2 separate regions of the Homo sapiens genome follow, and region 1 is linked to region 2. Evidence: fine-mapped expression QTL. Tissue or cell type: whole blood. Region 2 holds a variant in brackets; the other region holds the start of a gene. All regions are shown on one strand. Distances are from middle to middle. Region 1 holds the start of TLR4 (toll like receptor 4). Region 2 overlaps TLR4 (toll like receptor 4).

Region 1 (2,921 bases), 22 kb after region 2:
GGTAGAAAGCTGTTCTAATGGCAATGGAGAGTTATTAAAAGTTTTTAAGGAGAGTAATTTGTTAGATTGAAGCCTAAGGAAAAATAATAACAACAAATGCAAGTACATAACAAACAAGAACGTGCAGAATGAATTAAAGGAAGAAGACTGGAATCAGGAAAGCAGTTAGTGTGTAAGAGTCAATGCCAGGGGAAATGAGGGCCTGCCTTACAGTGGAACTAAGGGGATGGGCAGGGATGGACAGGCTTCAGGGACTGACAGGAAAAGGTACATGGGGAAAAGAAGTCAAGTTTGGCTGTGGTTTTATCTCGCAGTGAGCCTAATTAGAAAATCTATCTCCATTAACCTAACAGCAGAGGGATACAGAGAAGAGGACAAGGAGGAGGACTATGGGCAGGGAATTGAGGGAAGGGATGGCTTCAAGATAATGAATTAGTCTTTGCTAAATATTACTTGATTTTCTCCTATATCCTCAACTTCAGGACTGCAGCTGGCTTTTTCTCTCTTGAGTTTCTGACCCTGCCTCACTGTAAATCATTTTCTTAGCTGTTCGGCTCTACTATGGGTTTCTAAAGCAACTGTGAAGTCTGCGCAGGGGAAAAACAAAAGAGATCCATCATGAATAAGATTACCAACCAGCTGATTGGTATTTCACTAAGAAAGAAACTGTTGCATTAGCTGACATTATACATATTTCCCTCTTGCTTTTTTCTTCTCTCTCTCTCTCTTTTCCTTTTTCATTCTCTTATTTTTTTCATCCTCTGGACTAAACTATATTACTGCATACAGAAGTCTGACACCCACTTAGAAAGTTCTTTCTCTAGAGACACACACACAAAAGCCATCTTTTTCCTGAGATTGAAAGGAGCAGGGTGACTGCTTGAAGCTGAGTGTAAAGACCACCAGTGGGAAGAAATGACACTGAAGCAGTCTGCTTACTCTCTAGTGAAGAAGGTATTATAATTCTCTTACAGATGCGAAAACTAGTCTCAGACAGGTTTGATAATTTCTTCACAGAGCCACAAGGTAGCAGAGCAGGGACCTTAAGCAGATCTATGTTATCTCATGCCCCTGTTAGCACTCAAAATTTCCAAATGGAACAAACCCCCAATGGCTGCCTCTAGTGCCCTGTAACAATGAATTATTTGATCTCTGTGGCTTCTTGAGTCTTTAAGGTAATTTAACTCTTTTTTTTTTTTGCAAAAATAAACAAACCAGGGCACACAGTGAGAAGTTCTGGGCAGAAGTGAGGGAAAGTTCAGAGGAGCTGACTCCAGCCACATACCTCCACGCAGGGCTCCCAGCTTTCTGGTCTCACGCAGGAGAGGAAGGCCATGGCTGGGATCAGAGTCCCAGCCAGGCGCGAGGCAGACATCATCCTGGCATCATCCTCACTGCTTCTGTGAGCAGCAGTGGCCCTGTGAATGCGTGGCTCGCTATCACCGTCTGACCGAGCAGTTTCTGAGGCACTGGTGTCTTCTCTTCCTCGAGCCGCCCCACAGCAATTGGTGTATTCAAAGCAGTTCTGGGCTAAAGGGTGAGAGGAAGTGAAAGCGGCAACCTTAGCATTCTGGACTTTTGTTTCTCTAATAGTTATCTCTTTTGTCACAGGAGAGGAAGTTAGAAGAAGAAAACGCCTGCAGACCAGTGGCTAAAGAAACAGCAAGAGGAAGCTAGTTGGCTTTTATCCCAATTAGTCATCTGACCTCTGCCTGGGCTTGGTGAATTTAGGAAAACAATCAGGTTCTATTAAAATAGCCCTTGTAACTCTCTAGGATGACGGTGATTTTCCAATTTTGTTTCAGCTGTGGAAACACTATTTGTATTAGTTTGCTGGGGCTGCCATAAGGAAATACCACAGACTGGGTGGCTTAAACAACAGACATTCATTTTCTCACAATTCTAGAGGCTTCCAGTCTGAACTCAAGGTGTCAGCAAGTGTGTCTGAATTCTAATCTCCCCTTCTTATAAGGACACCAGTTATGTTGGATTAGGGCCCACCATAATGACCTCATTCTACCTTACATACCTCTTTCAAGGCTCTCTCTCCATATACAGTCATAGTCTGAGGTAGAGGGGTTAGGACTTCGATATGTAGGTTTTTGCAGGACACAATTTGGCCCGCCCCTTCTTGTGAAGAAACTCACATACAAAACTGAAAATAAACCTCAACTGAAACACAGTTTGAAAAGTACAAGAAGATTGGGAAAAGTCTGGGATTTCAGAATGGAATATACTGAAGTTCAGATCTCAGCTGGGTGACTCATGGCTTTGAGGCATTGGTCAAGTCATGTAAACCGCTAAGCTTTACTTTCTTTCTTTTCTTTTTTCATTTTCTGTATTATGGTAAAATCACATAACATAACATGACATAACATAAAATTTATTATCTTGACCATTTGTATGTGTACAATTTAGTGGCATTAATTATGTTCATATTTTTGTACAATCATCACCACTATTCATTAATAAATAACTCCCCATTTCCCCTTTCCCTAGGCCCTTGAATCTATGCACTACTTTTGTCTCTATAATCTTGACTACTCTAGGCAGCTCTTAGAAGTGGAATCATACAGTATGTATCTTTTTGTCACTGGCTTATTTCACTTTGCATAATGTCCTCAAGGTTCTTTTCTGTGTAGTATAGATCAAAGCCTCCTTCCTTTTTAAAGCTGAACAATATTCCATTGTATGTATAGACCACATTTTGCTTATCCATTTGTCTGTTCATGGACACTTGCATTGTTGCCACACGTTAGCTATTGTGAATAATGCTGCCATAAACATGGTTGTACAAATATCTCTTAAAGTCTCTGTTTTCAATTCTTTTGGATACGTACTCAGAAGTGAGATTGCTGGATCATGTGGTAAATCTATTTTTAATTTTTTGAGCACCCACCATATGATTCTCCACAGCATCT
Region 2 (2,921 bases):
CATGCTGAGTATATGACATCCATCACCCATTTCGTAAAAACACATTGTATTCCACTACCCCAGTGTACTGGGAGACAGCAATGAACCCATTTTAAAACATTTCCCATGGAACTTACAAAGGAGGGGATATCTGTGTACATCCATTTAACATTTTCTACCTCCCAGAAAGCTCAAGTAGCACCTTACTGAGGGTCAAACAAAGCTGAAAAAAAGAGAAAGACTCTGCAGGAGGCTTCTCCTAGGCAGAATATTGGTGTTGCTACCCCAGAACAAAGGCTTTCTGCTCCAAGCCAGCCAGAATCTCCTGGTGAGAAAAGGGCAGGATCCAACTCCAATAGCAAGCCTTTATATCATATCCAAATGCATGTAAAAAAAAAACTCTTGGTTCTTATTCCATATCACAGGTGAAAATAATGGGCCAACTCTCATGCATAGGCGGACTGATGTAGTCAGTTTATGTATCTCCATCTTTATATCTGTCATCAGAGCTGCCAAACAATAAATGAGACATTTGAGGAAATAATCAGCTCTGTCACTGGATTTTTTAGCATAATCTGAACAATCATACTTAGGAGATATTTCAGGGTAGGATTGAAGAGCTCAGCTTTTGGAATTAGGCACATATGGGTTCTAATCTTCCATCTTACTATCTGTAATTTACTAGCTAAGTTGTTTGGATGGATCGGTTCAAACTCCCTTAGCCTCAGTTTCCTCCTCTGCCAAATGGCGATGAAGACACCTGCCTCACAGAGTGGTTGGGAATATTAAATGGGATCATGCACGTAAAACACCTAACGTAGTGCCTGGTTCGTGAAAACTGCTAAAAGACTGTTTCACTTGGTATAAATGGACTTAAGAATGTTGTATTTTTTCATTATTATGATCTTTATTGTTATTGTTTTGTGGTAGTAGAAAGAATCCCTATAGTGGATAGAAAGCTGAGCAGAAGTTTTGGAAATGACAAAAACAAACAAAAAAGAACAAAAATTAAGATCACAAAAGCTAAACCGTCAACAAGAAACCCAAAACATAAAACAGAATCAAGTAGAACTGCTCCAGTTGATTCCTCACTTGATTCTCCACCCCTTTTCCTCCATCTCTCCCCTTTTTTATTATTATTGGTAGAGGTAGTATTATCAATAGAATTTCACTACTGCTACTACCACCACCACCACCACTAGCCTGGTGGCTTCTTCATACAAAGTCAGCATGGTGCAGTGGGAACAGGTAGATCTGGTTCAAATCCAGACCATGCCTCTCACTATCCTTGTGACATCAGGCAGAACAGGAGGCTAACTAAGAGGCAGGGAAGGCCAGGTTGAGGCCTTCACTCATTGGCATAAAAATAAGAGAAGAAGGTGTATGGAGGGGATCATGGCAGAGAGGAGTCAGGACTAGATTGCAGCTCCAGACAGAGCAGCATCCAGAGGCTTGCATTGTGAATTTTAGCTCCAAATTGACTGCAAGAACAAACCAACATTCCCAAGAGGACCCACAAAACCTCTCAAGGAAGTGGACTGCTCCTGCAGGACCCAGAAGACACCCCAAATGCTGTGAGTGGCAAGAGGGAGAGGGATAACAGACTACAAATATGGTGCAGTGTATATTGCTTGGGTGA[C/T]GGGTGCACCAAAATTTCACAAGTCACCACTAAAGAACTTACTCATGTAATGAAATACCAATACCTTATGGAAAAATAAAATAAAAAATAGGGGAAGAAGAAATTGCATAACTCTGTTATGCAGTTTAACAATTTTGTGGTAACAAGATGATCACTTAACAACAGCTTCTTCAACCCTTATGTTGTAACATTCTAGGATGTTTGTCTGTTTCTTGAAAGGGAGGGTAGGGTCACTCCAATTCTGGGAAAGTTTTTGAAGCCGAAGAACAAGTTGTATTATGTCAAGACTGAGTTATAGCTTCCCAGTGTCACACAGGAAGTTTGTATCAACACCAGGATAAGGACTTGGGCCTCCTAAATGCAAGGCACCACAAACCAGTGGGCTTAATGCTGAGACATTACCTAGGCTTCTGTCGGGCTGTATGCTCCCCATTTCATAATGAAAGCACACAAAAAATTAGCATTTTTGATGACTGTGAAGTGCCTTGCACTGTTTTAAGCACTTTGTTTGTATAAGCACTCATTTAATATATCATCCTTAACTGACAGATAAGCAAATTGAGACATAGTCCAGATAAATGTCTTTGTCAGGGTCAACTGATGCCAATTAACTATTAGCTTTCATGTAATTCAGTATTTATACTATATTGTTTCTTTCCTCAACTCTGCTATACATGGTCTTCTACTTATTACTTCCCAGATTTATCATTTACATTTTTGCTCTTCTTTTAGGTTAAGAATTTAAAGATCCATCTGCAGAGCTGTTCTTTTACAATTTCCAGCTCAAATGGGCCCTCCTCTGTAAAGCCTTCTCTGATTGCTTCTAGGAAGAACAACCCTCCACTCCCCACCACCCTGCATTTTGGCATAACATTGTGTGTGTGTGTGTGTGTGTGTGTGTGTGTGTGTGTGTGTGTGTATTGACATGCCTCTCTTGCCAAAATGAATCTGAACTCCGTAACTTTGAGGGCACTTCTTGGTCATTTACTTCTGCAGCTTCATGTGCCTTTTCAACCACAGAGTAGCTTCTTCATAAATATTAGATGGCCAGATGAGTAAAATAAAGAACACTCTCAAGGAGAAAAAAGAAAGTGAGAACTTTATTTCCGTGTACTGAACTGCCAACAAAACTGAGAGGTAGATATTATCCCCATTTTAAGCCGAGACAAACAAGACAGATACCATAAGACAGGATCAGAACACAGATCTGTCTGATTCCCAAAGCTTTTGTTCTCTCTAATACATGAGAAGAAAGACAGGCACATTAATGGTCACATGCAGAAGCGGTTAATGGAGTTCACAG

The links.
Region 1: it holds the start of TLR4, and the variant in region 2 is fine-mapped to the expression of TLR4 in whole blood (TOPMed, PIP above 0.99).

What each region holds. Positions count from the first base shown.
Region 1 is chr9:117,702,930-117,705,850 of GRCh38, reverse strand. It overlaps TLR4 (toll like receptor 4), which reads right to left and starts at 1,448. Exons shown (of 3, transcript NM_138554.5): 1 at 1,286-1,448. The coding sequence starts at 1,378. RefSeq lists enhancers at 1-762, 878-1,378, 1,349-1,418, 1,429-1,478, 1,379-1,879 and 1 more.
Region 2 is chr9:117,724,506-117,727,426 of GRCh38, reverse strand. It overlaps TLR4 (toll like receptor 4), which reads right to left. Exons shown (of 3, transcript NM_138554.5): 3 at 2,692-2,921. Among named protein-coding and RNA genes, the nearest start is that of TLR4, 22 kb to the right of the region's middle. The variant C/T (reference allele first, on the strand shown) is at 1,619.